2 separate regions of the Homo sapiens genome follow, and region 1 is linked to region 2. Evidence: fine-mapped expression QTL. Tissue or cell type: CD4 T cells. Region 2 holds a variant in brackets; the other region holds the start of a gene. All regions are shown on one strand. Distances are between the middles of the regions.

Evidence for each region. PIP is the estimated chance that this variant, and not a neighbour inherited with it, causes the effect.
Region 1: ADCY7 starts here. The variant in region 2 is fine-mapped to the expression of ADCY7 in CD4 T cells (Kasela 2017, PIP 0.91).

Annotation. Positions count from the first base shown.
Region 1 is chr16:50,263,739-50,269,100 of GRCh38, forward strand. ADCY7 (adenylate cyclase 7) reads left to right here and starts at 2,813. Exons shown (of 26, transcript NM_001114.5): 1 at 2,813-2,942. RefSeq lists enhancers at 710-889, 1,957-2,550, 2,496-2,585.
Region 2 is chr16:50,299,203-50,304,564 of GRCh38, forward strand. It overlaps ADCY7 (adenylate cyclase 7), which reads left to right. Exons shown (of 26, transcript NM_001114.5): 9 at 1,513-1,671; 10 at 1,880-2,012; 11 at 5,158-5,349. Among named protein-coding and RNA genes, the nearest start is that of MIR6771, 9.3 kb to the left of the region's middle. The variant G/T (reference allele first, on the strand shown) is at 2,822.

The DNA.
Region 1 (5,362 bases), 35 kb before region 2:
GCTCCCCACCTGCCATTCCCCTGGACTTGCCCTGCCTCCTATGCCCCTTCCCCTTGGCCCCCGATATCTCCCCCAGCGGCTCCATCTCCACGCCGCGCTTTCCTCAGGGTTTGAGCATGTGTCTCATCAGCCTCTCGCCCACTGGGCCAGGTCAGATCTGTTCTTTTTCCTGAATCTACTGAGCATCCAGCACCATGCCCTCCTGCATACGCAAACGGGTATCCCTCAATACCCATTTAAAAATGGACGGGTAATTTACATACAGGCAAGTGCACAAACCTTCAATGTACAGGGTAATGAGTGTACTTAGGCACTCGCCTGTATAACCAGCACCCACAGGGAGATTTAGAACCTCCTCAGCCCCCAGAAGTTTCCTGTGTGCCCCTTTCCAATCAGCGGCCTCCCTAGAGGCAACCGCTGTCTTGCTGTCTGTCACTGTAGATTAGTTTCATCATTTCTGAAGTTTCATATAAATGGAAACGTGCTGAATGTGTCTTTTGTGGGTGGGTCTTTCACTGTCCTTGCCATCTTGGATATTCATTCATGTTGTGTGTTAGCAGTGATCTGTTCCTTTTTACTGCTGAGTAATTTTCTGTTGTGTGAATATATGAAAATTTGTTTATCCATTTACTCATTGCAGGATGTTTGGGTTTGCAGTTTGACTGTTAGGATGAAAGCTTCTCTGAACACTTGGATAGAAGTCATTTGTGGACACATGTACTCATTTCTTTTGGGTAAATACCTGAGATTGAATTGCTGAGTCATTGGGGAAGCATATGGTTTGCTTTTGTCCACACTGCCAGGCAGTTTTCATCATGGTGGCTCCATTTTACATTCCCACTAGCAGTACATGAGAGTGAAGAGCTGCTTCTCCTCCTTGTCAACACTTGGTATTTTCATTTTAATTTTAGCCATTCTAGTGGTACAGTGGAATCTCTATATGGTTTTAATTTGCTGGTGGCTAATGATGTTGAGTATCTTTTTCATGTGCTTATTGGTCATTTTGGCATCCTCTTTGTTGAAGTACCTGTGTAAGTCTCTTGTTCATCTTTTAATTGGGCCATTTGTCTTTTTCTTATTGGTTTGTGGGAGGTCTTTTTTTTTTTTTTTTTTTCTGAGACAGAGTCTCACTCTGTTGCCCAGGCTGGAGTGCAGTGGTGTGATCTCGGCTCACTGCAACCTCTGCCTCCCAGGTTCAAGTGATTCTCCTGCCTCAGCCTCCCAAGTAGCTGGGATTACAGGCTCATGCCACCACGCCTGGCTAATTTTTGTGCTTTTAGTAGAAACGGGATTTTGCCATGTTAGCCAGGCTGGTTTCAAACTCCTGACATCAGGTGATCCGCCCACCTTAGCCTCCCAAAGTGCTGGGATTACAGGCATGAGCCACCATGCCAAGCCTGGGAGATCTTTATATATGCTAGGGAGGAGTCTTTTGTCAGTCATATAGGATGTGACTTTCTCCTAGTCAGTGGCTTGTCTTTCCCCTCTTTTGATGATGATGATGTCTGTTCCTTCTCTGCTCTGGGACATTTGCTAGGGAGACATTTGCTGATAGGAGGGCGACCCTGATGGGGAGGATCCCCTGAGGTCTCCCACTCCCTCCTGTGGCCTCTGGAGCAGCCTGGAACCCTGTGTGAGTCCTATGCCTGTCTCCACCAGATGGCAGACCTTAGATCACCTGCTAGTTCCCTGCATGGGGCCTGGCACAGAGACAGCACCTAACATGTTCAGTTCCTCCTGATCAGTATGTGTGGGATGTCTACTCTGTGACCAGCTGGGGCTGGACGCTGGGGACACAGCTGTTGATATTACAGCTGCCCTCCCATCTCTGCCCTCCTCAAGGATATAACCTAGGAAAGACAGACCAGCAACCAGTGGTCACAGCACAGAGGTGCTGTGATGGAGGAAGGTGCAGGGGTTAGAAGACCAGAAGAGGGGTGTCTGACCCTGGATGTGGGAGGTGGAGGAGGTACACCATTGCTTTGAGGAGCTCGTAATCCCAGGATGCCAGTCACATGCTCAGAAGGGCTCCCTGAGGACCAGGTGCTGCTGTGGCCAGCGGGCTGGAGGCCTCCCCCTCTGTTTTGGGAGTCTCCACTCTCTCCTCTTAGCCTCTCCTGATCTGCTCCCTCGCCACTGAGCGCCCCATGATCCCAGTGGGGAAACTGAGGCCTGGCATAGCAGAAGGGGTGCTGGGGTTTGATTCCCAGCCTCATGGTGCCCAGGGATGTTGGGGGCTCTCCAGGGACTCTGATTTTGGAATAGGAGCCCCAAGGATGGGCCTGCCCCTGCCCTGCTCCCAGCATGGGAGCGTAGGTGAGATGGAGAGGCAGTGGGCTGGGCTGGAAGATCTTTGACCTCTCCTGGGCCCCTCTCAGAGGTGGACGGGGCCACCTTACTACATAGATAGGGAAATTGAGTCCCAGGAAGGCGCGGGGGGCCTGTCTGTGAGCGTCAGAGCCCACAGGAGGCTCAGGCCAGGCCGCTAATTGCTAATTGCTCACTAAGGATGCATTTGCTCCCCACTTTGAACAGTTGTCTTGGGGCTTCTAATGGAGGTTTTTGGTGCTTGTTTTATTATTATTTTTTCAAAATTGTTCCAGCTTCAAGCTTCAAATTTCCATGAAGTCATTGGAGCCCGACAGCTCCCAGGCCTGGCAGCTCCCAGGCTGCGGAGAGCAGCACTGTGGCTGGGGGAGGGGGCCCTGCACACCCCGAGAGGCTGGGCTGTGGGCTGTGCCTTAGCCTTGCTGCCGCCGCCGCCGCTGCTGCCGCTGCCGGAGCAGGAAGTGGTGGGTCCCAGATGTGACTCACTCTCATTAGGTAGCGTGGAAGGAGCCTTCGGATGGGTGAGCCTGGGCGCGTCTGAGGAAGGGCAGGCGGGGGCCGGGCCACCTCCCTGCAGACCCTGGCCGGCTGCTGGGGCCGGGGAGGAGAGCCAGGTAAAAGTGGGGTGTGGGGATGGAGTGTCACCAGTCCTAGTGGCTTGAGCCCCAGGGGACGGGGCTGGACAGTGGGTGGGAAGCAGCTCACCCGGCAGCCTGGCCTGGGAGTGCACTGGGCAGGGTCTGGGCTGGGGGAGTAGGAGGCTCCGTGAGCCTACTGGGCAGATGGCTGGGAGAGGCGGCCCTTCAACAGGGGACCAGAGGCGACTTGTCACTGGCTTTTCCCAGCCTGACAAGAAAGTGCGGTTGTGACCACAATGTTGTACATGTGGCCCGTTCCATCTGGAATTCTAGGAACCACAGACTCTCAAATGTCCACACTCCTTCTCGAGGGTGTAATTTTACATTTACAAGCACACATGACTTTTCTCAATGAAAGGAAACATTGGCAAGGGAAGGCCAATTCAACTAATTTTATGAAATTATAAAACAAAAAACAAACAAAACCTCTGAAAGGAGTGCATGCCTGAGGGTCAGGAAACCAAGATGCCTCCAAAAAGCAGACTGGTTTCCCTTTCCCTGCAATGCCTCTCCTCTATCCCCCAGGGACCGCATGGGCCATCTGGAGTGGGTCTTTCTGGAGCGGGTCTTTCTGGAGCTTTCTATGCATTCATCTAAACATGTATGTACAGAGGGTGAGGCAGTTGCCTCTTCTCTGTGTCATCACATCAGGGTCAAGGGCAGGGACATCTGTGGCTGGGGGCTTCCTCCCTGGACAGCCATTGCTGGAGAGGAGAAGGGAGGGCCGGGAGGGGGAAGCCAAGGGCCTGGAGGTAGGGGCCAGGCCGAGCCACCTACGACAGGGGCCCTGGGTCCAAGGCCTGGACGGGCAGCCAGTGTGGGCTGGATGTGTCTGGAAGGGCTATGTGACCGTGGGCCTTCACTAGCATCACCATCTTGCAGATGGAGGCTGTGAGGGGTGGACTCAACACCAGTGTTTCTCGGAGTGAGGACCGGGCTGCCCAGGGAATCACAGGGGGTTCTAGCCTGTGTGTGGAAGGACATGTTTAAAATCTAAGTATTTGTCTTGGGGAAAAAAAAATCTGTAAATAGGACATTGCCATTGTGACATCATGACTGTATTATTGTCTTAGACGAGGCCAAAGGAGACATAAAAGTGACAAGCCAGCCAATTTGAGAGGAAGTGCCAAGTGCCAGCCCTGCAGGAAGTGCAGGAGGCTGAGGGGGCTGCAGCTCAGGAAGGCGTTTGCTGCACAGCCTTCGCTTCCCACCCAGTTGTCTGTCTTCCCACCTCCAGAGGCCCTGGGTTCCCAAGGTTTACCTGCAGCTCCTGGTGCAGAGTGTGGGGGAGGGGAGGCTCTCAGATTGTTCCAGATTCTGTGGCCCTCAGAAGGGCAGGTGTGAGCTTTGTGGAGGTAGCGTCTCCGGTGGTATTTTCTTTCTTTCTTATTTTTATTTATTATTATTTTTTGAGATGGAGTCTCTGTCTGTTGCCCAGGCTGGAGTGCAGTAGTGACCCTCTTGGGTCACTGTAACCTTTGCCTCCTGGGCTTAAGCCGTCCTCCTCCCTCAGCCTCCTGAGTAGCTGGGACTACAGTTACCACACCACTACACCTGGCTAATTTTTGTATTTTTAGTAAAGTAAAGACGGGGTTTCACCATGGTGGCCAGGCTGGTCTCAAACTCCTGACCTCAAATGATCCATCCACCTCGACCTCCCAAAGTGCTGGGATTATAGGTGTGAGCCACCACCCCCAGCCTCTTTTCTTTTTTTAAGACAGGATCTCACTCTGTCACCCATGCTGGAGTGCAGTGGAGTGGTCATAGCTCACTGCAACCTTGAACTCATGAGCTCAGGCAATCTTACCGCCTCAGCCTTCTAAAGTGCTGGGATTACAAGCATGAGCCCGACGCCCAGCCTTCTAGTGCTGTTTTCATGAAAGAAGCAGCTGTTTACTAGCAGCTGTTTTCCGGGTGATGAGGGTGAAGGTGGTATTGCAGAACATCTTTGCCAGGAGTAGGTCTGGGAGGTTTGCTTGAGGGCATGGAGGTTGGTGTAGGGAGAGCTCAGGAAGTAGAAATTGGGCTGGAGTGTGGCCTCTGGACAGGCCACAGGAGAGTCTCAAAAGGAGAAAAGATCCCAGCACTTTGGGAGGCCAAGGTGGGCGGATCACTTGAGCCCAGGGGTTCGAGACCAGCCTGGGCAACATGGCGAAACCCCGTCTCTACAAAAAATACAAAAATTAGCTGGGTGTGGTGGCGTGTGCCTGTAGTCCCAGCTACTTGGGAGGCTAAGGCAGGAGGATCCTTTGAGCCCAGGAGTTGGAGGCTGTAGTGAGCCATGACTGTGCCACTGCACTCCATCCAGCCTGGGTGACGGAATGAGACCCTGTCTCAAAATAAATAAATTTTTCAAAAGAGACAAAAGTCCGACTCGATGGTTGCACTGGGGACAT
Region 2 (5,362 bases):
CTGTTTGCGTCCCTCCCTGTGGTGCTGCCTGTGACTCTGAGTCCCAGAAAGCATCTCCGGAGCTCAGAGCTGGGTGATGTGAGGTCAGGGCGGTGGGCTCCGCTCCCCTCAAGGATGGGGTCTTAGCAACAGCAGGAGGCTTCAGGGTAGGCAGCCGGGGGACCTTTCCGACCCAGGGGTCGACTCCAAGGCTCCATCTGCTTCCTGCTCCCCAGTGAAGATCCTGGAGTCAGGCTTGGTCCTGAGGCTGCGGGGAGACCCCCCGCTCCCCTCTAGGTCCCCTGTGGCTCTGAGCAGCTGGGGTCTGTGGGAGGAATTTGCCGAGAGGGCTGTATGGGGAGAGGGCCAGGCAGGCCCAGCCAGGCTGACCAGTGTGGGGCAGAGCAGGGCCCGGTGGGGCTGCCCGTCCTGGATATCAGGCCGTGTTCCAGCCTGTCCTTCTCCTGAAGTCCTGCCATAGGTGGCTGGTGTTGCCAGAAAGAAGCCTGGGCAGAGCTGGAGGGGCCTGGCCTGCACCACTGCCTGTGTGACCTCAGGCTGGCCCCTGCCCTGTAACAGGCGGAGGTTGTACAGGCCCTCGTGCACCTCTGGTTCCGACCCTGGAAGGCTTGGTCAGTGCCCAGCCTTGTTGGTGGACACGTGGTGCCGCTTGTCATGGGGACTCAGGCTCTGTTCCTGTCTTGGGCGTCCCCTGTGCCCCAAGGAAGCTCTCCCGTGGGGCTCTGCTCCTGTGCTCAGTGGTGCTAACAACTCCCAGGGCCCCTGCTTCCCAGGGATTGGGGGGGCATAGAAGGTGCCCATGGTCTGGGCCCCTGTGTTCCTTGTCTATGCTAGGTTTTGGGTGGTTCCTGGACCCCCTCTGTAGACGCCAGTAAACTTTATTTATTTATTTATTTATTTGAGATGGAGTCTCGCTGTGTTGCCCAGAGCGTATCTCGGTTCACCACAACCTCTGCCTCCTGGGTTCAAGCGATTCTCCTGTCTCAGCCTCCCAAGTAGCTGGGACTACAGGCGCCTGCTACCATGCCCGGCTAATTTTTATATTTTTAGTAGAGTCAGGGTTTTGCCATATTGGCCAGGGTGGTCTCAAAACTCCTGACCTCAGGTGATCTGCCTGCCTCAGCCTCCCACAGTGCTGGGATTACAGGCATGAGCCACCACGCCCGGCCCCCAGTAAACTTTTAAAACCCAGCCGGTGCTGCTGGGCAGGGAAAACACCCAGTGATGGTATTTTAGGTCCATCAACATGGGCTGTAGTGACTAGTTGGAATTCCTCCTCCCTCCTACCTAGTCCTTGAGGTCAGCTGTGGCCACACCTACTTGTATGCTCCTGGGGATGGGGCACTCAGCTCTTCCTGAAGAGGCAGCCCCATCAGGCTGAGAACATTCTCTCCCGTGGGCTGAGCGCCTGCCCTGTTCCCACATGCTGCCCTGTACCCACCCCACACCTGGGAGCTTCAGCCTGTCCCAGGGCTTAGGCAGGGCTGGGGTGACTGGGCCACTCTGCCCCAGGCAGGTGCGGGAGGCCACGGGCGTGGACATCAACATGCGTGTGGGCATACACTCGGGGAATGTGCTGTGCGGGGTCATCGGGCTGCGCAAGTGGCAGTATGACGTGTGGTCCCACGACGTGTCCCTGGCCAACCGGATGGAGGCAGCCGGAGTACCCGGGTGAGGCTGGGCTGGGTAGCCGCAGGGACAGAGGCCTGGGGCTGGCTGTGGATGGAGGGTTCTGCGGTTGGGGGTGGGGGTCAGGTGTGGAGGGAGAGATGAATGTAGAAAAGCTGGCCTGGGGCCCAGGCCTGCCTGCTGTGCATCCCTGGGTGGATGCCAGCCCTCTCTGGGCCCCAAGGCTCTGCCTGACTTGGGTCTCCCGTAGCCGGGTGCACATCACGGAGGCCACGCTAAAGCACCTGGACAAGGCGTACGAGGTGGAGGATGGGCACGGGCAGCAGCGGGACCCCTACCTCAAGGAGATGAACATCCGCACCTACCTGGTCATCGACCCCCGGGTACGAGGGCTCAGAGGCCGCAGCTGGGGGGGACCCGGAGGGACTGGAGGGGCCCTGGAGAGCCTGGCCCGCACCTTGGAGGAAACCCCCATGTGGAGGGAGAGGTGGGGAAGGGCCCTGCCTGGGCAGGAGTGAGCTCCCTGTTCCCAGGCACATTCTAGGCACCGAGTAGCCACTCCCTGGGCCTCCATTCTTTTCTATGTGATGGGAAAACAGCGCCTGCCTCACCAGAAGGAGCTAATCCGAGCGAGGCCTTCACAGTGCGCCTGGCACGTCACAGCATTCTATGTATTCTCGTCACTCTTGGTTTATTTTCCATGAGGTGGTTATTAATCTCCCAGATTTCCGAGAGACACACTTTCAAAACAAGCTTTGGATGAAACTCAGGAAAGCAGGGAGTGGCCTGGGAGCCACTGGGCAGGAGCCTCTGAGTGTCCTGGGTGCTGACTGCAGGTCCCCTGGTGGCTCCAGGACCCCACGGTGGAGGAGGCAGTTCCACTGCCCTGGCCAGGTGGGGCCCGCCTTGGCCTGTCTGCTGCCCGACCCTGGCCTGCTTCAGGGAGTCCGGCACGTCTGGCCACTTCTCTGTGAATCATCCATGAGGCTTGCTCAAGAATGTCGGCCCAGCCAGCGAGTGGCTCCTTTCACTCTGGTCCTCGCTATGCCTTGGGGCTGGCCCGACTGCCAGACCCTGGGGGACCAAGGGCTGGCCTGTGAGCCTCCCTACACATCTGCTGGCCTCACTCTGCCCCCAGCACCCCCAGTGCTGCACCATCCATACTGAGCCAGCATCTGGGAAAACCCCTGCC[G/T]GTACCTGTGTCCCATTCCACCACCCTCCTAGAATAGGGCCCTGATCCTCGCCCTGTACCCCGGCCCTGGCCCCGCCCCTCCAAGCCCCTTCCCCTGCTCTCCTGTCCCCCTCACCCCACCTGGTCTCCTCCTGCCCTTCCACTACCAGGGTGGTGGCACCCGCAGGTCCCTGCACTCAAAACACTCCTCCCTCCGTCCCTAATGCCCTTGCTTGTTTATCCATTTTCCTTGTCTGTTGTCAGCATGAGTGCCATGCCGGGGGGCTCCTCCTCTCCAGGCTGCAGCCCCCCACCCCGTGCTGAGATGGATGCCCGGCTCGAAGCTAGTGCTCAGATAGCCCTTGAATGAGTGAAGCAGAGCTCCTCACCCAGGAGGCTCCAAAATCCACCCCCGCAGGCTGCCAGGTTGAGCAGGGAAAACTGCAGGCTGCCTGGGCCGACTTGAATTTCAGATAACTGTAAATCATGTTTCGCATAAGTGTTGCACGCAGTACTCAACTGGACAGTTGTATTTATTTGGCGGCCCCACCTTCCCCCCACCCCACCCTACCCCACCCTCTTTTTTGTTTAACTTCATTTATCCACGCAGTTGAAAGTTCAAAAGGTGTGAAGGGCGTGTTGTAGAAAGACTCCTTGTCCCCAGCCGGCACATCTCAGAGGGGACCTGTGCAGTGAGTTTCTTGTATTCCCTCCACAGGGATTTTCACGGACACCGAGTGAACTGCGAGTCCCCCCACCCTTCTTGCTAAGGTGGCAGTGGCGGGCCCCATGGTCGCGCACCCTGCATTTTTCCTACCTTGGGGACATCCCTCCTGTGTGCAGGGTGCTCGTCTGTAGCTCCTGTTTTTGACATGGAGGTGGATTTTCTGCACTGGCTTCTATGGGCTCTGCCTTACGCCATTGCTGTGTGGCCTGGCTGGGGCAAGGTGGGCTCCTGTGGACTGGATGGTGGCTGCAGCTGCCCCCGTGGGGCTCATACCAATGCCATGCCCATTCCGAGTAGGCATGTGTTTGCTCAGAACTGAGGAATCTGATTTTTGTTTCTGCTTTTTATTTGTTTCTCAGGGGGCTGGGGTGTCTGGATTCTCTGCTAAGTGCCAGTGACCTTGAACTTGAGTGGCTAGGTGCTGTGTAGGCAGAGTTGTCACAATGGAGGAGGGGACAGAGAAACGCATCCACCCCCACCAGGTTGCTCACCACAGGGCCAGCGCGCTCTTCCTGCTCTGGGACACTCACCGAGGCTGAATTCCACGTGGCTCCCGTGGCTAGGCAGATAGATGCAGCTAAGGGCTTAAAAATGTTTCTATCCCAAAAGGAGGTGAGAGGTTTCCAGGAAAGTTGCGCTGTGGCTTATCGAGTGCTTGTAGCTGTGGAGGCTTGTCCATGGGGTGTTTGTGGGGCCCTAGGAGACAGGACTTCCGGAGGCAGAGGAATGTTTCAGGGGCTAAGGAGAGACTCAGCAGACCTGGAGCCCGCTTAAGCTCATCTCTGGTGGCCTTGTGGGTCTTTCTCTTCCCTGTCCCTTTTCCAGTCCTGTCTGGCCACCCCAACTGGCGAAGGCCTCAGGCATGTGTTCTTGGATCGGGGTGGGGGTCTCAGGTCTGTGGCATGAGTGGGGGCGGGTAGGGCTGGCCGTGCATTCAGGGCCTGGCTGAACTACTGAGTGTCCAGCATGAGGCTGGGTCTCGCAGGCACGTGGCAGGTCATGGCCCTGTGCCATCTGCGGTTGGGGGCCACACAAGTGGAACTCCCTGGATCGCTGCCCTGGGGGTTGGCTGGCCTCTGGCTTGGCCATTTCTCGGGGCGGCTAGCACCCCTCTTCCTCCTGGCTGCTTCTCACAGGAAGGAGCGAATGCGTGCCGGCCACACGTGGGAGGGCAGGGTAGGATGCCTGTGGCTTTCCCAGGCGCCTCCTGGGGAGGAGCTGATGGGTGCTCAGGCCCCAGGGACTCTCTGGTTCCAAGGAGCCTCAAGGGCAGTGGGGCCTCGGGCTTGGGACCCAAGCCCTGCCTCTCTCCCTGGGGAGGCAGAGCAGGGTATGGGGTTGGGTACAGTGGTGGGTACTTGCTAGCCTCTTCTCGGCCTGGGGAAAGGCCAGGGCACCGAGCTGGGACCCCATATGGCCTGGCCTCAGAGTGCACCAGGCTTTGGCTGGCTAGTCCCCAAGGGCAGCCGCTCTCCAAGGGGACTGCGGGTTGAGCAACTTCTTTGCTGTTTATTTTTTCACGGGCTCAGGGCGGCGTCACACTTCAGGGAGAGCTGGATGGGGATGGCGGCCCCTTCCTGGGCCGAGAGGGGAGGAGGTGGCACAGGCCCATGTCCATGTCTGCCCGCAGAGCCAGCAGCCACCCCCGCCCAGCCAACACCTCCCCAGGCCCAAGGGGGACGCGGCCCTGAAGATGCGGGCGTCAGTGCGCATGACCCGGTACCTCGAGTCCTGGGGGGCGGCACGGCCCTTTGCACATCTCAACCACCGTGAGAGCGTGAGCAGTGGTGAGACCCACGTCCCCAACGGGCGGAGGCCTAAGGTAGGTCCCCCTC